Regions from separate parts of the Homo sapiens genome. Here regions 2, 3, 4 and 5 are each reported to be linked to region 1. Evidence: microRNA targets listed by miRTarBase, many of them from high-throughput screens and not tested one by one. Region 1 holds a microRNA gene; each other region holds the end of a gene's coding sequence.

What was found. Region 1 holds the annotated microRNA hsa-miR-6756-3p (UCCCCUUCCUCCCUGCCCAG, at 1,526-1,545, shown strand). A microRNA usually pairs through its seed, bases 2 to 8, with sites in the 3' UTR of a target mRNA and lowers its output. Matches are read on the target gene's strand: a 7mer-m8 pairs with bases 2 to 8, a 7mer-A1 pairs with bases 2 to 7 and ends in A, and an 8mer does both.
Region 2: the mRNA of SOX4 is a reported target of hsa-miR-6756-3p. Seed matches in the 3' UTR shown: 7mer-m8 at 1,161-1,167 and 7mer-A1 at 2,298-2,304.
Region 3: miRTarBase lists SMIM18 as a target of hsa-miR-6756-3p. Seed matches in the 3' UTR shown: 8mer at 3,113-3,120.
Region 4: miRTarBase lists CILP2 as a target of hsa-miR-6756-3p. Seed matches in the 3' UTR shown: 7mer-m8 at 1,107-1,113.
Region 5: the mRNA of PRMT7 is a reported target of hsa-miR-6756-3p. The part of its 3' UTR that is shown has no 7-base or 8-base seed match.

Annotation. Positions count from the first base shown.
Region 1 is chr11:119,310,382-119,314,494 of GRCh38, reverse strand. It overlaps MIR6756 (microRNA 6756), which reads left to right and starts at 1,483; the gene lies at 1,483-1,545. MCAM (melanoma cell adhesion molecule) reads left to right here. Exons shown (of 16, transcript NM_006500.3): 5 at 1-6; 6 at 1,546-1,725; 7 at 1,847-1,968; 8 at 2,067-2,229; 9 at 2,325-2,443; 10 at 2,546-2,687; 11 at 2,844-2,965; 12 at 3,074-3,215; 13 at 3,310-3,405; 14 at 3,592-3,739; 15 at 4,029-4,113.
Region 2 is chr6:21,595,614-21,599,726 of GRCh38, forward strand. SOX4 (SRY-box transcription factor 4) reads left to right here. Exons shown (of 1, transcript NM_003107.3): 1 at 1-3,006. The coding sequence ends at 346. Among named protein-coding and RNA genes, the nearest start is that of SOX4, 3.9 kb to the left of the region's middle. RefSeq lists an enhancer at 699-898.
Region 3 is chr8:30,644,730-30,648,842 of GRCh38, reverse strand. It overlaps SMIM18 (small integral membrane protein 18), which reads right to left. Exons shown (of 3, transcript NM_001206847.2): 3 at 2,779-3,562. The coding sequence starts at 3,533. The coding sequence ends at 3,246. The region is part of intron 2 of GTF2E2 (general transcription factor IIE subunit 2); the gene reads left to right. Among named protein-coding and RNA genes, the nearest start is that of SMIM18, 8.2 kb to the right of the region's middle.
Region 4 is chr19:19,545,425-19,549,537 of GRCh38, forward strand. CILP2 (cartilage intermediate layer protein 2) reads left to right here. Exons shown (of 8, transcript NM_153221.2): 8 at 1-1,235. The coding sequence ends at 592. Among named protein-coding and RNA genes, the nearest start is that of CILP2, 9.2 kb to the left of the region's middle. RefSeq lists an enhancer at 1-641.
Region 5 is chr16:68,356,506-68,360,618 of GRCh38, reverse strand. PRMT7 (protein arginine methyltransferase 7) reads right to left here. Exons shown (of 19, transcript NM_019023.5): 18 at 3,822-3,918; 19 at 2,035-3,565. The coding sequence ends at 3,395. SMPD3 (sphingomyelin phosphodiesterase 3) reads left to right here. Exons shown (of 9, transcript NM_018667.4): 9 at 1-2,292. Among named protein-coding and RNA genes, the nearest start is that of PRMT7, 48 kb to the right of the region's middle. RefSeq lists an enhancer at 3,868-4,027.

The sequences.
Region 1 (4,113 bases):
AGAACCGTGAGTAGCCCTTTCTCCCAAAAGCCACCCTTGGGCCAGGTGTGGTAGCTCACACCTGTAATCTCGGTGCTTTGGGAGGCCAAGGCAGGAGGATCTCTGGAGGTGAGGAGTTCAGGACCACCTTGGACAACATAGGGTGACCCTGTCTCTACAGAAAATAAAAAAATTAGCCAGGCATGGTGGTGTGTGCCTGTGGTCCCAGATACTTGGGAGGCTGAGGCAGGAGGATCATATGAGCCCAGGAAATGAAGGCTGCAGTGAGCTAGGATTGCACCACCACACTCCGGCCTGGGTGACAGAGCGAGACCCCATCTCTTAAAAAGAGCTGTCCCTATGGTACTACACAGGAACTGCCTTATATTTTCATTAAGCTTTTAACTTAAAAAAATTATACAAATGGTACTTGAAAATATTTTCATGAGAATTTAAACTGACAAAAAATCTAGAAGTTTCTTCTTGCCTGAGACCCCCCCTCCCAGAAATAATCTCTGCTATCAGGGTGTGTTCTTTCAAGCCTATTTCTATGTATTTGCTCATATATAGAAATATTTCTAGAATGATATAGGCTTCTGTGTTTTATTATCTAAATCAGTCATTCTTAACCAGGGGTGATTTTGTACCCCCTCCTCCTAGGAGATACTTGGCAATGTCTGGAGATATTTTTGGTTGTCACACATAGAGGGGGTGCTACTGCCATCTAGTAGGTAGAGAGACCAAGGATGTTGCTAACATCCTATAGGGCACAGGACAGCCCCCACAATAAAGAATCAACGTGGCCTAAAACATCAGTAGTGCTGGCTGGGCTCACGCCTGTAATCCCAGCACTTTTGGAGGCCAAGGTGGGCGGATCACCTGAGGTCGGGAGTTCAAGACCAGCCTGTCCAACACGGAGAAACCCCATCTCTACTGAAAATACAAAAGTAGCCGGGCGTGGTGGCGCATGTCTGTAATCCCAGCTACTCAGGAGGCTGAGGCAGGAGAATCACTTGAAGCCGGGAGGGAGGTGGAGGTTGCGGTGAGCCGAGATTGTACCACTGCACTCCAGCCTGGGCAACAAGAGTGAAACTCTGTCTGAAAAAAAAAAAAAAAAAATTATCAGTAGTGCTGAGAAACCCTGGTCTAAGTGGTGGTGTATGGTATACATTGTTAGACAATTTCTTTTATACAATGTTTCTGGGTCAGTCTATTTAGATCAACTGATCGTTTTGCTTACTGCCAAGTTTTCCATACTACGCATAGCAGGTAGTCGAGTTCACCATTCCCCATTTAGTGGACATCTAGACGGCTGCTCGTTTTTATCATTGCAGCATTCTTTGCACACATCCTTGGATATGAGCAGACATGAAAATGTTTTTCTAGGGTTGACACTGAGCAGTAAAAGTGCTGGGTTGAAGGGTTTCCAGCTTGCATTTGTACCTGGCCTTCTACAGGGGACAGGGGGCTATTTAGATGGTCCCCTGCCAACCCCAGTGGACAACCCTAGGGTGGGGCTGGAGGTGGGGCTGAGGCTGAGTCTTCCTCCCCTTCCTCCCTGCCCAGGGGTCCACATTCAGTCGTCCCAGACTGTGGAGTCGAGTGGTTTGTACACCTTGCAGAGTATTCTGAAGGCACAGCTGGTTAAAGAAGACAAAGATGCCCAGTTTTACTGTGAGCTCAACTACCGGCTGCCCAGTGGGAACCACATGAAGGAGTCCAGGGAAGTCACCGTCCCTGTTTTCTGTGAGTACTAACCTGACTCTCTGCTTACTGGGGCTGGGGCTGCTGGAAACTCCTGCTGGCTCCCCCTTATCCAGCCCAGGGTTGACTCATGGGCCAAGAGCTACCCCCTTTGCCTATGCAGACCCGACAGAAAAAGTGTGGCTGGAAGTGGAGCCCGTGGGAATGCTGAAGGAAGGGGACCGCGTGGAAATCAGGTGTTTGGCTGATGGCAACCCTCCACCACACTTCAGCATCAGCAAGCAGGTGTGGGGGCTTTGTGCTGGGTGCAGGTGGGGATGCAAGCAGAGACCCAGGTGGAGTGGCGGGAGGTGCACTCTGCTCACCTCCCCAATCCTCCCTAGAACCCCAGCACCAGGGAGGCAGAGGAAGAGACAACCAACGACAACGGGGTCCTGGTGCTGGAGCCTGCCCGGAAGGAACACAGTGGGCGCTATGAATGTCAGGGCCTGGACTTGGACACCATGATATCGCTGCTGAGTGAACCACAGGAACTACTGGTGAACTGTGAGGGGCTGGGGACCCAGGACAGGGGGACCAGGCTGGGGCAATAGGGAACTGGCCCCACCCTGCCCTGGGTGACATGATTGCTGTACCCCCAGATGTGTCTGACGTCCGAGTGAGTCCCGCAGCCCCTGAGAGACAGGAAGGCAGCAGCCTCACCCTGACCTGTGAGGCAGAGAGTAGCCAGGACCTCGAGTTCCAGTGGCTGAGAGAAGAGGTACCCAGGCGGGTCTGGGGCAAGGGGCTGATGGGGTGGGTGGGGCTGGCGGTGACAAGAATGTGCTCTTTCCCAGACCCTCTGACCCATCTCTCATCCCAGACAGGCCAGGTGCTGGAAAGGGGGCCTGTGCTTCAGTTGCATGACCTGAAACGGGAGGCAGGAGGCGGCTATCGCTGCGTGGCGTCTGTGCCCAGCATACCCGGCCTGAACCGCACACAGCTGGTCAACGTGGCCATTTTTGGTGAGGCCCTCCCTCTGGGTAGAGACCAGGTCACCCCAAGTGGGGTGGTTTTTAAGCTCTTTGACAAAAAGCCACCTGCTGCCCTGGGGAGCTCTGGTGCGGAGGGGGAGGCAGGCTAGCTGGGCTTGCCACCTCACCTCTCCCTACCTCCCCAAGGCCCCCCTTGGATGGCATTCAAGGAGAGGAAGGTGTGGGTGAAAGAGAATATGGTGTTGAATCTGTCTTGTGAAGCGTCAGGGCACCCCCGGCCCACCATCTCCTGGAACGTCAACGGCACGGTGAGCGGGTGTCTCATCTGCCACACTCTCCTAATCCCTGCCTGCGCTTTGTGGCCAGGACCAGAGATCCTCCCCATCCCCTGAGCTGCCTCCTTCCTTTCCTCGCAGGCAAGTGAACAAGACCAAGATCCACAGCGAGTCCTGAGCACCCTGAATGTCCTCGTGACCCCGGAGCTGTTGGAGACAGGTGTTGAATGCACGGCCTCCAACGACCTGGGCAAAAACACCAGCATCCTCTTCCTGGAGCTGGGTGAGGGCTGCATCCCTGCAGGGGATGGCAGGGGCAGGCCCAGGCACGGGCAGTAACTTGCGCTTCTCCTAACACCCCTCCCTCTGCCTCCTAGTCAATTTAACCACCCTCACACCAGACTCCAACACAACCACTGGCCTCAGCACTTCCACTGCCAGTCCTCATACCAGAGCCAACAGCACCTCCACAGGTAAGCCAGGCCTGGCAAGAGAACAGGGCTGTGCCAGGGCATCCTTTCTGCCCTGTCCCTCCCCAGAGAGCCCTGTCCAGAAAGGTGAGTAGCAGCCCCATCTTGTCGGCCCTGGACTGGCTGGGCCAACGATGGTGACGAAGTGGCCTGGGGCAGGGAGTGACGAGGAGTGTCTTTGTGGCGCAGAGAGAAAGCTGCCGGAGCCGGAGAGCCGGGGCGTGGTCATCGTGGCTGTGATTGTGTGCATCCTGGTCCTGGCGGTGCTGGGCGCTGTCCTCTATTTCCTCTATAAGAAGGGCAAGCTGCCGTGCAGGCGCTCAGGGAAGCAGGAGATGTAAGCCCAACACCGGCCCCTCCGCCCCCGCCCGTTTTGCCACCCAGCCTGCTGCCTGCCCAGCGCCCGCCTGCCCCTTGACAGCAGGAGTGGGGCCCTGGGTCAGGGTGCTGCCTGCTCCACTACCCACTGCCCAGCTTCCATCAGCCACATGGTCTCATGACCTGCTTCCCTGCCCTGGGCTGGCCCTGGAGCAAGGAGCCCTCATCCATTCCACATCCTTCACAGCGGGCCCTTCTCTTCCTGTGGCCCTGAGATACCAACCTCTCACCTCCCTCCCTCCTCCCAGCACGCTACCCCCGTCTCGTAAGAGCGAACTTGTAGTTGAAGTTAAGTCAGATAAGCTCCCAGAAGAGATGGGCCTCCTGCAGGGC
Region 2 (4,113 bases), not on the chromosome of region 1:
CTACGCCAGCCTGCGCGCCGCCTCGCCCGCCCCGTCCAGCGCGCCCTCGCACGCGTCCTCCTCGGCCTCGTCCCACTCCTCCTCTTCCTCCTCCTCGGGCTCCTCGTCCTCCGACGACGAGTTCGAAGACGACCTGCTCGACCTGAACCCCAGCTCAAACTTTGAGAGCATGTCCCTGGGCAGCTTCAGTTCGTCGTCGGCGCTCGACCGGGACCTGGATTTTAACTTCGAGCCCGGCTCCGGCTCGCACTTCGAGTTCCCGGACTACTGCACGCCCGAGGTGAGCGAGATGATCTCGGGAGACTGGCTCGAGTCCAGCATCTCCAACCTGGTTTTCACCTACTGAAGGGCGCGCAGGCAGGGAGAAGGGCCGGGGGGGGTAGGAGAGGAGAAAAAAAAAGTGAAAAAAAGAAACGAAAAGGACAGACGAAGAGTTTAAAGAGAAAAGGGAAAAAAGAAAGAAAAAGTAAGCAGGGCTGGCTTCGCCCGCGTTCTCGTCGTCGGATCAAGGAGCGCGGCGGCGTTTTGGACCCGCGCTCCCATCCCCCACCTTCCCGGGCCGGGGACCCACTCTGCCCAGCCGGAGGGACGCGGAGGAGGAAGAGGGTAGACAGGGGCGACCTGTGATTGTTGTTATTGATGTTGTTGTTGATGGCAAAAAAAAAAAAGCGACTTCGAGTTTGCTCCCCTTTGCTTGAAGAGACCCCCTCCCCCTTCCAACGAGCTTCCGGACTTGTCTGCACCCCCAGCAAGAAGGCGAGTTAGTTTTCTAGAGACTTGAAGGAGTCTCCCCCTTCCTGCATCACCACCTTGGTTTTGTTTTATTTTGCTTCTTGGTCAAGAAAGGAGGGGAGAACCCAGCGCACCCCTCCCCCCCTTTTTTTAAACGCGTGATGAAGACAGAAGGCTCCGGGGTGACGAATTTGGCCGATGGCAGATGTTTTGGGGGAACGCCGGGACTGAGAGACTCCACGCAGGCGAATTCCCGTTTGGGGCTTTTTTTTCCTCCCTCTTTTCCCCTTGCCCCCTCTGCAGCCGGAGGAGGAGATGTTGAGGGGAGGAGGCCAGCCAGTGTGACCGGCGCTAGGAAATGACCCGAGAACCCCGTTGGAAGCGCAGCAGCGGGAGCTAGGGGCGGGGGCGGAGGAGGACACGAACTGGAAGGGGGTTCACGGTCAAACTGAAATGGATTTGCACGTTGGGGAGCTGGCGGCGGCGGCTGCTGGGCCTCCGCCTTCTTTTCTACGTGAAATCAGTGAGGTGAGACTTCCCAGACCCCGGAGGCGTGGAGGAGAGGAGACTGTTTGATGTGGTACAGGGGCAGTCAGTGGAGGGCGAGTGGTTTCGGAAAAAAAAAAAGAAAAAAAGAAAAAAAAAGAAAAAAAAAAGATTTTTTTCTTCTCTTAATCGGAATCGTGATGGTGTTGGATTATTTCAATGGTGGGGTTAATATAGCATGTTATCCTGTCTATCTTTTAAAGATTTCTGTATAAGACTGTTGAGCAGTTTTTAAAATAGTGTAGGATAATATAAAAAGCAGATAGATGGCGCTATGTTTGATTCCTACAACGAAATTATCACCAGCTTTTTTTCATTCTTAACTCTTTAAAGGATTCAAACGCAACTCAAATCTGTGCTGGACTTTAAAAAAACAATTCAGGACCAAATTTTTTCTCAGTGTGTGTGTTTATTCCTTATAGGTGTAAATGAGAAGACGTGTTTTTTTCCTTCACCGATGCTCCATCCTCGTATTTCTTTTTCCTTGTAAATGTAATCAGATGCCATTTTATATGTGGACGTATTTATACTGGCCAAACATATTTTTTCTTTTGTCCCTTTTTTTCTTTCCTTTCTTTTTACTTCCTTTATTTCTTTATTCCTTCCTTTTCCTTTTTTTCTTTTTTTTTTCTTTTTTTTTTTTTTTTTTTGGTAGTTGTTGTTACCCACGCCATTTTACGTCTCCTTCACTGAAGGGCTAGAGTTTTAACTTTTAATTTTTTATATTTAAATGTAGACTTTTGACACTTTTAAAAAACAAAAAAAGACAAGAGAGATGAAAACGTTTGATTATTTTCTCAGTGTATTTTTGTAAAAAATATATAAAGGGGGTGTTAATCGGTGTAAATCGCTGTTTGGATTTCCTGATTTTATAACAGGGCGGCTGGTTAATATCTCACACAGTTTAAAAAATCAGCCCCTAATTTCTCCATGTTTACACTTCAATCTGCAGGCTTCTTAAAGTGACAGTATCCCTTAACCTGCCACCAGTGTCCACCCTCCGGCCCCCGTCTTGTAAAAAGGGGAGGAGAATTAGCCAAACACTGTAAGCTTTTAAGAAAAACAAAGTTTTAAACGAAATACTGCTCTGTCCAGAGGCTTTAAAACTGGTGCAATTACAGCAAAAAGGGATTCTGTAGCTTTAACTTGTAAACCACATCTTTTTTGCACTTTTTTTATAAGCAAAAACGTGCCGTTTAAACCACTGGATCTATCTAAATGCCGATTTGAGTTCGCGACACTATGTACTGCGTTTTTCATTCTTGTATTTGACTATTTAATCCTTTCTACTTGTCGCTAAATATAATTGTTTTAGTCTTATGGCATGATGATAGCATATGTGTTCAGGTTTATAGCTGTTGTGTTTAAAAATTGAAAAAAGTGGAAAACATCTTTGTACATTTAAGTCTGTATTATAATAAGCAAAAAGATTGTGTGTATGTATGTTTAATATAACATGACAGGCACTAGGACGTCTGCCTTTTTAAGGCAGTTCCGTTAAGGGTTTTTGTTTTTAAACTTTTTTTTGCCATCCATCCTGTGCAATATGCCGTGTAGAATATTTGTCTTAAAATTCAAGGCCACAAAAACAATGTTTGGGGGAAAAAAAAGAAAAAATCATGCCAGCTAATCATGTCAAGTTCACTGCCTGTCAGATTGTTGATATATACCTTCTGTAAATAACTTTTTTTGAGAAGGAAATAAAATCAGCTGGAACTGAACCCTAAATCTTGACTTTTGTCGTTATTATGCCCAATGCCTAAGATTGGAAAGGCCCTACAGTATCTGGACACTACACAATCTGCCTTAGCTTTAAAAAAATAAGTTCTCAGAGGAGTCTTGTCAAATGCTACCTTATCGAGGAACATTAAATGTCTCTTGGCCAGATTTCCTCTGACCCTGAAAATGATGGCATCAGCTGAATATGTGTCAACTCAACACATGCTTTCTAGGAATTTTCTGAGTTTACCATATTTAAAAACGCCCTTTGTCTTGGAATCTGAAAGAGGGGGAGGGGCAACGTGGACAGAATTCTTCACAGATGAAACTGGCTAGATGATCTTTTTTTCAAGTTGGTGCTCCTGGAGCTGCTTTCTCCTTGATTTGCCCATGCTTACCTCCAGCAGTGGCTGTAATTGGTTTTCGTGGGTTAAGGACAAATAAACTGTTATTATCAGTAGATTATACAGGAGGAGGCTTTTACCGATTATGAAATGCAAAACGTATGCATTTATGCATTTTTTTTCTCAAGCAGAAAGGTTGATGTGCTACAATCTTCATTTTTTGCCATGCCCAACATGGTGTTAATGTAAGAGAACTGCAGCAATAAGGATGACCTGGAGAAGCTGGCTGCATGTGGGCTCAGAGGAAAGCCCCCTCTCCAAATAGCACTTACTTTGGCTGCTGGAGATTTGTGCTTTTTCTAAGAATCAGGAAGGATTGTTGAGACTGCAAGGTGAAAAAGTACTTGGATTTCTTAAGGCCCATTACTCTTGGGTTTGGAACATACAACTTGCTAAGTGGCACTATTTCCTGTTTATTTTGAGAGTTAACAATTGCTATTAACTAACAAAAGCCATCTTCCAAATGTTAATTAAAAATGTGTCTTTTACTTGTCTTGAGTTTTTCAGCACTGGAGAGGAGGGGTTAACAAGCAGAAGTGTTTGGAAATTATCCCTTAGTCATTTGGATTGCTTGTAGATAAGGGAGTAGTATCCTGGAAGGTACATCTGGAAAAAGAGACCTTTTGAAGACTAGTCTAACAGGAGGGGGTTTTGTGGTTGTCCAACGAAAAGCAATAATGCACCCCCAAAAACCAGTATAACTTGTGTTTCA
Region 3 (4,113 bases), not on the chromosome of region 1:
AAAAATCTCAGTTTCTTAAAACAACAGAAGCTTGTTTCTCCTTCATACTACATGTTTATCATGGATTGGTAGAAGTCTTAGCTAGTTATAGTCACTCAAGGACCCAGGCTGGCAGAGCAGCTGGAAGCTCAAATGTTTGTGAGTTCTGTGCTAGCAGGAAAACTAACTCTGGAAGAGCTTGCACTAGCAGTTAAGTGCTGTGGCCTGAAGGTGACACATGTCACATCCTCTCACAGCTCATTGGCCAGAGTTAGTCACAAGTCACTCATTGGCCAAAGTTATGTTCCCAGCCATAGGGGGCTCTGAAGTGAATGCTTTCCTTAATGAAGAGAGCTGGAAATATTGGGTGTAACAACTAAAGGCTACCATGCCACTCTAGTTCAGGCCACGGTCATTGGATTGCTAGGTTAGCTGTTGACCAGGTCTCCTGGTTTAGCTGCTTTAGTGTTCATTCTTCATACAGCTGTGATTTTTCTCATTAGATCATGTTGCTTTCAGCTCAAGCTGATTGTTACTGTTTTTCAGATAAAGTCCATGTTTTACTGCAGCCTGCGTGCCTGCCTCATCTGGCCTCTAATTATCTCTTAGGTGTGGTATCATACTGTTCTCCTTGTACTCTGTCCTAGTGATACTGACTTGTAGCTCCTCCAACATGCTTTATTCTCTCTTGCCTCTTGGCTTTTATTCGTATTATTTCTTCTTCCTGGAATATTCTTTCTTACCTCCTACCCTCTTTTGGTTCTGTCCTGTTCTTTTAAGTTTCAGCTTAAAAGTCATATTATTCTCATTCTTCAGTGTGAATTCACTGTATAACCTTTGAGTTCCCATATCACTACTCTTTTTGACAGAGCTTCCAATGTGCTCCATTGTAGTGACGTGGTTCCTTGTTTGCCACTCTGCCCTCAGTATCTGGCCTAATTGCTGACATGTAGTAAGCACTCAGTAAATATTTGTTGGATGACTAAATAATTACAGGATAGGGTGGGGGAGAAAGTTGGTAATGTACACTATTAAAAAATCTGATTATTAAAGGACTTGTATACTTACCATCTATTGCCAAGAATCCAACGTTTGTGAAAATGTATATGGTTTTAACAGTGCTCAGTTCCTGGTTTCCAAAGTATTTTATATATCCAAGCTTCACAAATCCTTTTAAAGTTGGTTATATTATTTGTGTTTGTTTCTAATGTGAGAATAAATATAAAAAATACTTTGTGGAAGAGTTATTTCAGACCGGCAGTTAAGATTCTTTTGTTTGTTTGAGACGGAGTTTCACTCTTGTTGTTCAGGCTGGAGTGCGATGGCATGATCTCAGCTCACTGCAACCTCTGCCTCCCAGGTTCAAGTGATTCTGCCTCAGCCTCCCAAGTAGCTGGGATTACAGGGGCCCCATTCCCATGTCTGGCTAATTTTTTTGTATTTTTAGTAGAGATGGGGTTTCACCATGTCAACCAGGCTGGTCTCGAACTCCTGACCTCAGGTGATCCACCTGCCTCGGCCTTGCAAACTGCTAGGATTGCAGGCGTGAGCCACCGCGCCCAGCCGATATTCTTTAAATTGAAAAGAACAGATTTCCTCTCTTCACCACACAGTTATTTATTGCACACAAAAAATTCCATCAGTAATAGAGATTTAAAAAAAGTCTTTTATAATACCTAGTGCTTTTTTTTGTCCCCACAGCCCTCTTAATATACCAGCTATTCTAATTCTCCATATTTGTTTTCAAACCTTACTCATGTGTATATTTATAATATCAATAATTGTATTAAAACTTTTATATGGTGAATTTATTTTTTACTTTTAAATACTTGTCTATCTTGCCAGACTTTTCGGTTGCTTTTTTTTTTTTTTTTTTTTTTTTTTGAGACGGAGTCTTGCTCTGTCACCCAGGCTAGAGTGCATTGGCATCATCTCGGCTCACTGCAACCTCTGCCTCCTGGGTTCAAGCAGTTCTCCTGCCTCAGCCTCCCGAGTAGCTGGGATTATAGGTGCCCACCACCATGCCCGGCTAACTTTTGTATTTTTAGTATAGACGGGGTTTCACCATCTTGGCCAGGCTCGTCTTGAGCTCCTGACCTTGTGATCCATCCGCCTTGGCCTCCCAAAGTGCTGGGATGACAGGCATGAGCCACTGTGCCTGGCCTTCAGTTGCTTTTTAATAATTCATTAAGTTGATGTGCCACATTTAGTTAAAGTCTTAGTTATTTTCAATTTTTTGTTATTTTGAGTAATGCCATTGTAAAAAATCTTTGTACCTTGAGCTTGTACATTTGAACTAAGTGCTTAGGATACATTTCCAGGAGTGGCATTTCTGACTTAGGGGTAGTGTGGTGGTTAAGAGCATGCTTTTGTTTGCTCATGGGTGATAGCAAAATAGTGTTAGGGTCACAAAATATCTATATAGCCCTTGGAATTCCAAGAAATAAAACTGCCATATTTCAACAGGTGTTGAGTGGCCCTATCTTTTGACCTTTTTTGGGGGGATGGGGGGAGGGGCAGTCTTTCTGCCTTGGTTATCTTAGCCTTTGAGAGTATAAATAAGAGAGGTAAAATGAAAGAACAAACTCAGGAAATGAAGGGGTGTAGTAGTAAGTTTTAGTTTGAAAATAGACTAGGCCTTTCCTATATCATGCATTTCTAACTAAACAGTAAGTCAGTTTTGTGAGAATTTTGTGCAAATATACTTGTGGCATTTTTGATTATTTTGAGACTTTTTCATACTAATCCTACATAAAACTCAAGTCATTATATATTTATATAAGTTGTTTTCAGTAAATTAGAAAATACTACTTTTTAATAAATAGGAACTTTATATATATAAGTGGAAGTATTTTACTTCAGACTTAGAAACATGTTTTAAATAGCCTTTTTGTTACCAACACACTATTTTTTGTCTACATGAATTGGTTAGTTATAAAATCATTTTAGCATCATTAGCCTTGCTTGTCTTTTCCAGCTTATCTTTTGCTGCTTAATATTGAACTCTAGGAATCTTTTATCCAGTTTTTGAAGTGTCAGTATTAAACAGATTAGTAAATTCACATTCATGAAGTTTTACTGTATATTTAATGAAATGGCTATACACACAAACAGTGCATGTTTAACTTTTTTTTCCCCTTCTACTAGAAATGTTTTAACCATTCAGTCAGAATTTGTTTTGTAGCAACAGTTGGCCTCAGAATATATTTTTTTTCTCAGAAGAGGTTGAGCTGCTTTCAGAGATTTTGTTCATCTTCTATAGAGTGTTAGACCACTTCAGTTTCACGTTTTCTGATGTTGTCCATCATACTTCTAAGAGGGTTGGGTTCACTTTTCAAGTCTTTCACGGTTTTGTTTTTTACACAGCAGCAGCAGTCAAGCACTTCATAAAGGAAAGCCAGCACCACTAAAGATACCACTGTAAATATAAATAAAAGCAGGATGACAAAGCAGGCAGTGTTCCAGTTGTCATGGAAAGGGTAAATTTTTTGAACTTGAAAACCAAGGTACTGATAAACAGAGGTAGTGGTTTCATTCCAGTGGCTGGAAGCCATTCTTAGAGATTCCACTTGCTCTTTTGAATCTATAAAAAAGGTAGAAAATGAATTTATGTAGCAAACTACAGATCTGTTAATTCAAATCTCAGTACTAAGATTTCTTAGTAAATTTGTATAGGCAACATGAATCTTCCTTAATTAATGCCTAAATGGTAGTTTTGAATTTTTTTGTATATCTGGGCCAACGTCCTTAGTCAACCATACCCTGTTTTTTAACATATATTATTTGCTAGATGAATATGTATATTTAAGATTCAGGCCAGGCATGGTGGCTCACGCCTGTAATCCCAACACTTTGGGAGAGTGATGTGGGCAGATCACTTGAGCCCAGGAGTTCAAGACCAGCCTGGTCAACATGGCGAAACCCGTCTCTACAAAACATACAAAAATTAGCCAGGCATGGTGGTGTGTGCCTATAGTCCCAGCTGCTTGGGAGGCTAAGCCGGGAAGATTGCTTGAGCCAGGGAGGCGCAGGTTGTGGTGAGCTAAGATCGTGCCACTGCATTCTAGCCTGGACAATGGGAATGAAACCGTTTCTCAAAAAAAAAAAAAAAAATTCATATACCGAAATTAACTG
Region 4 (4,113 bases), not on the chromosome of region 1:
CAGCCACCCACGCACCCGCGGCCAGCTCTACGGACTTCGGGATGCCCGGAGTGTGCGAGACCCCGAGCGTCCGGGCACCTCGGCAGCCTGCGTGGAGTTCAAGTGCAGCGGGATGCTGTTCGACCAGCGGCAGGTGGACAGGACGCTGGTGACCATTATGCCCCAGGGCAGCTGCCGGCGCGTGGCCGTCAACGGACTCCTTCGGGATTACCTGACCCGGCACCCCCCACCGGTGCCCGCGGAGGACCCAGCTGCCTTCTCCATGCTGGCCCCCCTAGACCCTCTGGGCCACAACTATGGCGTCTACACTGTCACTGACCAGAGCCCACGCTTGGCCAAGGAGATCGCCATTGGCCGCTGCTTTGATGGTTCCTCTGACGGCTTCTCCAGAGAGATGAAGGCTGATGCCGGCACAGCCGTCACCTTCCAGTGCCGGGAGCCACCGGCCGGACGACCCAGCCTCTTCCAGAGGCTGCTGGAGTCCCCGGCGACAGCACTTGGTGACATCCGCAGGGAGATGAGCGAGGCGGCGCAGGCACAGGCCCGGGCCTCAGGTCCCCTCCGCACCCGCCGGGGTAGGGTCCGGCAGTGACCTGGGCAGGGGCCTCGCTTTCCCACCTCCCTCCAGACTCCTTTGACCCCAGGAAGTTTTGCCCCTCCTTCTTCTCCAGACAGCCCCCTCCCCAGGTGTCTGGGTCCCCTTTCCCGCCCCTTTCCAGAACTCAGAGTCAGACAAGAACCCAGAGCATCCGATGGTAGAAACACCAGGAAGACAATTGTTGCTGTGTGGTATGGAATGGAGTTTGCGGTGACTCTGGGGCCAGCACCCAGGGGACGACGTTCAACCCTAGCCTGAAGGGACCCGCTCCCAGCTCAGAAGCCGTCTCTGACTTCTCGTGCGTATTTTGACCCTGATTTCAATCTTCTACCCTTGGGAGTTCTGGCGTTTGGCACAAAGTCCCCTCTGCCTGTTTGGAGCTCAGTGCTAGACCAGGTCCCCTGCCCCGAGCTTTGTTTTTGGGGTTATTTATTGAAACAAAGTGTGGGGAGCTGGTTGTGGGTGTGAGTGGGGGTGTGGGGTCCAGGCTGGGCCCAGTGAAAAGGAGGAAGGGGTTCCCATGCGGGGGAGGCTCTGGGGCTGAGGGGAACAATTCTCACGTGTTTGGTGCTTAGAGACCTGCCCGGGGCGTTGGGCAGGCCCTCCGGGGGCTGAATTAAAAATGCTTTATTTCCAACTCATGGTGTCAGGCTCTAGGGAGGAAGGATGGAGGCTGGGGCTGCCCGGCCCAGATACACCTTTCAGGCAGAAACACGCGGAGGCACACGCGGGTGCCGGGGGCAAGAAGCACGGGCGGCTGTGACCGCTGAACACAGTGGCAGCCTGCTGCTCTGGCCTGGACTCCTTGGCTGTGCCTGGCCGTATGCCCCGGGGCTACAGCAGGCAGGGAGGGGCCCTGGCAGGGGAGCCTCTGGGGCAGGCAACAGCAAGCCAGGCCACCCTGGACCTCCTCAGTCGAGTCCACAGCAGCCCCACCCTGGGCCCCACCCACCTGAACCCCGGCCACACCTCGGTCATGTGGCGACGGGGCTGCCCGAGGCCAGGGCTTTCTGACCTTGCCAGGACCCTGGGTCTGGAGGCGGCAGAATCACGGCTGGCTGGCAGTCTGTGTGCACGTGTGTCCTCCTGGCGCTCCACAGGGCCGGCGCTGTCCTGACCACACCCCCACTGTCCAGACAGAAAAACTGAAGTCCTGGGGTCTGGCATGAATCCCAGCAGGTTTGAGCCCCCTATAGCTCTAGGTGTGTGATTCCCCAGGGTCTGGGGATGAAGGCATCAATGTGGCAAGACTGGAGTGGCCTCCAGGGCACCTGGGATGGGAGACTTGTCCCTGGCTGACACCCCCTAGGGAGTGGGGGTATGGAGCGTCCCTTAGCTTAGGGGGCAACCACCCACTTCCTCTTCAATCTCCCACCCATTCACTGGCTCCCCTCTCCAGACCCCCGATCTCATCATTCACCCATCCAGCATTTAGAGGTGTGAGCTCTGCACTAGCAACTTCAGGGGACCTGAGAGAGCCTATCTCTCTAGGGGGAGACAGGCTCACACGTGCATACCCCAATATGCCCTGGGCCAGTGCTCCACCCAGAGGGTCCCTGGCTCTTGTCCACTGGCCACATCCCCCCTTCGGCTGAGGTCTTGGCAAATCCGAACCTCCGCAGCTCTCACCCTTTCAGTCAGGGAAACACTTCCTTTGCCCTAGGGTGGACTTGGGGGCCTGGAGGCATGGGAGAAGCCCAAGATGCGAGGCGTCACCCCTGGTCTCTGAAGGTGGGCCCTAAGGGCTCTGCTGGAGTTTGGGTTTGGGCAGCCCCAGACATTGGCACCCCAGCCTCACCCTCGATAGGCTGTGACAGGCAAGAGAGGCGAGAGGTCCCTGAGGGAGCTGGCAGGGCTTGGGAGAACACACATTTATCCAGAACTTACTGTCTCTATACCCCCAGCTGATAGGCTCAGAGGCACAGGCCCCTCCCAAGGCAACCTAGGTTCCCGGCCTGCCTGCCACAGAACCCTGCTCAGGGCTGCCTGGTGGGGGTCCTGGGGAGGGGTGGGAATGGGGGCGCTCCCACTTGAAGCGGGCAAAGCTGGCTGCAGCTTTCCAGGCGGAGGGTGATGAGGTGTCAGGCTCCACGGCCAAATACCTTTCATTGAGAAAGTGTTGGGGCCTCCGACGCTGCCAGGCTAGGGCGGCCAGCCAGGCATGGAGCGGGCAGCTGGCCCAGCCCTGTCCCCTTCCCTAGGGTGGGGCAGGGGTGGACGGGCATCCTCCAGAAGCCCCCTCCCCAGTCACCACGCCTGGGCCAGGAAGGGCATCTCAGGAGGAGGACATGGCTGAAGCAAAAGCTGGGCAGGGCACGGGGCTAGAGTCCAGCTCCTCCCCATCCCTGCTGATAACTCTGCAAGAGGGCAGCGTTTGGCCACAATTTCCAGATGAGGAAACTGAGGCTCCAAGAGAAGGACGCCATCAACCTGAGTCAACAGCCTTGTGCCTCTTGACACTGCCTGTCTCCCCCAACTGCAGCCCTCAAGCCAGGAATCCCACCCCCTCCCTCCTGGAACCTGGGCTACCGTCCGCCTCCTGGTAAATCCATTGTCTACCCCCCAACCAAATTGGGGCTGCCAGACCACACCCCCTCAGTCTGGGAGGAGTGAGGGGCAGGGGACCCCCTCGAAGAGACCCCCAGCTGCAGCCACCCTGGGTCAGCTCAGGGCACAAACAGGCCCTTGGTCCCGCCCACGGCATTTTAGACTTTTATAATTTTAGAACCAGGGGTTCTTAAAATTCCTAGCACCATGATGGGGAAAAAATCTTGGAACAGTAAAATGTTTAAAACAAGAGTCTTCAAACCACAGAATCCAAGAGGAGGGAGATAAAAATGAACACACATTGAGCGTTGACTGACTGTAAGCCCTCCGAGCCAGCCCCCGCAAAGCCTAACTCACTTTAAGGGCATTTAGTATAAATCTGTTGCCTTGGGATCCCCAAAATATGCTTTTAGGGAGGATGATTTTTACCCCCATTCCACAGCTGGAGGAATCTTCTCAGGGTCACACAGCAAATGGGGTACTGTGGGCTGGGGAAGGGCAATGTTTCCTGGAGAAGGGGACATAAGCACTGGGTCTTGAAGGATGTGTAGGAGTTTGCTGGGTGGCCAAGGCAGGAAGGGCATACCAGGGAGCTGGAAAGGTGAACGTGAAAGCTGGAGGAGGGAGACCCACGGAGGGCGGCAGTAGAAGGGAGACACAAAGTGGAGGTGAGCAGGGGCTCGAATGCTGAGTGAGGAGCCTGAGTTCTCTGGTGAGCAATAGGGAGCTATGGGTTGTGCTGAAGCAGGAGAAGGTTACACAATATCTCGTGACAAAGACTCCCCTGGAGCTGGTGCAGGACTCAGCTTCTTACAACATGCTTCTTTCACGGAACTGGGGTCTGCTCCCTCCTACTTGGGGGCCCTTCCAGGGTCCAAACCCTGCAGCCCAGCGCCCTCTCCCCGCCAGCTGCCTCCTGTCCTGGCTGAACATCCCTGGCTCCTCCATTGGGGCCTCGTGGACCTGGC
Region 5 (4,113 bases), not on the chromosome of region 1:
CCCAGGGCTCTTCCCAGGGTCTCGCATTCAAGGGCAATTACATTTTAAAAAGAAAAACAGAAAAAGGTTAATCACAAAACCAACCCTCACTTCACAGGGTCTGTAAGTCACTCATAGAACTTTGCTCTTCCCGAGACAGGGTCCCTTCCCCAGCTCAGGCACAACAGAGTCTGGCAGGCTCTGGCACCCTGGGCCTCCTCCGGGAGCCTCCCATCTGGGCAGTGGAGCCATAAACGGGGATCCGAGAAGAGAGTATCCACTTTTTTTTTTACAGGAAGAAGGGACTCACAGCATAAACGGGGGTGGGGGGGATCCTGATTTTGAAAATAATCTATTTGTAGCTTCTCTTCTATCAAAACCAACACATCCTCTTCTTTCTGCCAATCCTCTCCCCCACGGGACACCTCTCTGGTTCGGGACCAATCCCTCCCTGGGGACGTGCCCCACCTGCGTGCCGGCTGAGCTCAGGAACCCCTGCCTGCCCCCCGGGTGGGGCTGCGGCTCTGGCCTCCCAGGCCCATCCTCAACAGCTACCCCAGCCAACACCAAGGCCACAAGGGGACCCCGGCCTAGGAGGCAGGAAGCCAAGGTGCAGAGAGCAGCCTGGCCCTCACCAGTGCGCAAGCTGGGGCAGCAAGGCTGACAGTTGCTGCATGCCCAGGGCAGGGTGTGGTACTGGCACCCAAGTTCAGCATGGCAGAGCTGGCCAACAGCTTGTGGTCCCCGATCTGCCTCCAGCCCCAAGATGCCTACAGCCCCCAGGCCCCTTCGGCAGCACTGCCTCTGCCCACCTGCCTTTAAGAGACTCCAGGGCTGCTCCTGTCATGCAGCGAAGGTTTTGTCTGTTTCAAAGTTCGAGACTCAACTTGAGGGACTGTTTTTGACAATCCCCGCTGACCTCCGCTCCTCGTGGCGCCCTGGCCCTACACCCAGCCTGGCCCAGGGCCGGCTTTGCCTGGTGAGGCTGGAGGGAGCACCAGGACCTGCTGTCTGCTGTCAGCCCCTCCTGGTGCTGGTGCCCTGATGCTGTGCCTTGTCACCCATTGAGCTGCAAGAGGGACCAAGAGGGGGCCACGCAGCCAGCCAGATGCCTGGCCCTGTGCTGGGGCAGACAACGCTGCAGAGCCCAGGGAGCCTGGCGCTAGGACGTGCGTCCTTGTGACACTGGCCTGTCTGAACTCACCTGGCCTGGGAAGCACCGTCTGCCCGGGCCCAAGCCCTGCCCCTCCAGAGTCCAGAGCCAGGAAGGGGCTGCTGAGGGCGAGCATCCTGCTGGGCTCTCTGCCCGGCCCACCCCTCCAAGGGGCTGGCCTGTGAGCCTTGACTGGGATTCATGATGTGGAGGCCCCCAACTTCCAGAAGCAGCTGGTACTCTGCTCACACAAGCGACTGGGCCGGCCGGCCCTGGACCCCTAGACCCCGAGCCGCCTGCCGACTGCCTGCACAGGGAGAGCAGTTGAGGCCCGGGCAGGGCCCCCACACCAGACCCCAACATAGCTTCCCCACCCAGGCACCCCCTCCCGGGGCAGCAGGCGTGGGAGTCAGGGCTGCATGCTCCTCCCCTCCCACCTCACAGGCGGCCTTAGGCAAGTCATTTTCTGTCATCACAAGGTCGCCTCTGCCTAGTCAGGTCCTGGGGTCCAGAGTAAGGATGTGCGGCCCCCAGGCCCCCGCACACCTCCCTCAGCACCAAGACCGGGACCCCCCCACCCACGTGTCTCATTGTGGCTGCCTATGGACTCCCGGGCCTTGTGTGCAGGCCAGGCCCTTCCACTGATTTTTTAAAGTGAACCATTGCTGGATCTCAGATTCTGTGGCATCTAAGGCCTAGCAGGGGTGGGCACACGGGTCACCCGAGGCCCATACCAAGACTCTGTTCCTGCCCTAGGCCCAGTCTCAAAGGAAGCCACAAGGCGCGGGGGCCACTGAGGAAGGAAATGTTCATTTTCATTTGTCCAAAACCACCTTAAGTTTTAAGTATATTAATCTTGATGCTTTTTAACTATTGCTTTTTAACTTGCTGAGATTTAGAAATACTGTTATAAAAACTTTTTTAATTTCTGTATTTTTTTCTGTATTGTATCTTCATGGGACATTAGGGGTTTTCTATGGTAAGCACACCTATGGTTTTGGTAAAAACATTATCAAATATATATCCAGACGGTTCTTCCCTAGAAGAAAAACAAGTCTTTACACCTGATAAAATATTTTGCGAAGAGAGGTGTTCTTTTTCCTTACTGGTGCTGAAAGGAAGGATGGATAACGAGGAGAAAATAAAACTGTGAGGCTCAAGGCTGGTGTTCTCCACTTATTTCAGCGACAAGCTGGGGCCAGGCCTCAGGGGCACGCCTGGGGGCAGGGGAGGGAGTTCCTGCCCCCAACTGCAGGACAGGCACTGCCCAAGTCTGCCCTGAATCCGAGGACACCGGAACTCTGCTCATACAGGCGGCTCGGCTGGCCTGGCACAAGCCTCACCTTCTAAGCTGCGAGCCAGAGGCCACTGGGTTCTCTCACGTGGTGTCTGCTGTTACCTCTGAGAGCTGGGACATAACCAAAGGGGGGTTAGTGTGTGAGAGAAGCAAGGCCACGGCACCTACTGACCTTCCTGGTGAAGCGGCGCTGGGCAGGGGCTGCTCCCTGCCATACCCCACCTGCAGGAGGGGCTTTCCAATCTGAGGGAGGTGCAGGGAACAGGGCTGCCTCCCAGCTCCCCTGACAGCCACTTTCCTGGGCCTGCATCTCAGGAACTGCTCTGGGACAGCTGCCTTGTGTCCAGTCTCAGGTCCTGGCAGGCCACCAGCTGGTGCAGCACTGAGGCCAGACACCTATGGATGTGGCTTGAAGTTACCTGTCAGGTGAAAGGGCCAGAACCCAGGCCTCTCAGCCCGGGCCCAGCCAGGGTCTTCAAGCCCCAGAGACCCAGCCACAACTCAGCATCTCCACCCTCCTAGCAGAAGCCAGAAGAGCAGGGACCCGGAGATCCTCGAGAGTGAGACAGACAGGACAGGCTCCCGCCACGGGGACTGCTCGCCAAGGGCGGCGTGGACAACCCCACCGGCCAGCCCCACAAGCTCCCTGTGCTTCCACTCCCTTCCCAGCTGGGGAGAGATGTCTCTGTGTTGGAGCATTCTCAGCACCTCAGAAGCACAAGCAGGGGGGTCTTCCCAGCCCCTCCAGGGCTCCAAATTCAGTCACCCTCTCATGCTTCCTGCCACAGCTGGAGCCAGAGGCCAGCAGTGCAAAGATGCAACAAGATGCAACACGGCGCAGTCTTTCCCATCCCTGAGGCCGAGCAGCTCCCAGAGAGGAGAGGAGGGCCTTCAGCCTTCCCCGCTAGAAAGCCATGAGCCACTCAGAACCCCAGCCCTCAGGCCACTTTATTGCTCAAGAGTGGTCAGTCTGGGGTATCTGCATGCCTGAACTCCATGATGATGTCGCCTGTGTCGGGGTGAAACTCCACTGCATAGCTGACAGTCCGTGGGCCACCCAGCAGTGCTCTGGGATCTGGGGCAGGGCTGAAGAAGTAGACGGCCTGCTTGCAGTGGGGGTTCCAGCAGCAGCCCCCCTGTAGGAAGAAGAGCAGGAAGATGGTGAGGGCTCCCTGGCACCTGAGCCTCCTTCCTAGCCAGCCTCCAGCCCAGGCAGCTCGCAGCAGAGAGAAGCTGCTCAGGGGCCAGATGGCCCAGGACCACTGAGGGGTCATCATCTGGCCCGAAGAACTTGTGACAGAAACACCCAGAGCATGGGGGCAGGGAGGCCTCCCCAGGCGGCGCCTGCTCTCAGGGTCTGCACGCACACTGGGCCCGGTGCGCAGGCACTACCTCGGGGTCTGCAGGCTCCAGGAGGCCAGTGCTGAGCGTGCACTCCGGGGTCAGGTGGTACTCCATCCATAGCACCGCTGCGTGGCTCTGCCCGGGCCTGTCAAGGAGAGGGGGGCCCAGCAGAAGTAGTCACACAAGAGGCAGCGGGGGAACAGCTGCAGCTCCTGCGGCTTTCCAGAAACCTGTGGTCTTCCCCACTTCCTTCCTGCCCTGCCGGGAGTTCCTAGTGCTGCAGTTACATAAACGTTCCTCAGAAAAACCCCAGCCAGAAGAGCCGCAGCCAAGCCCCCAC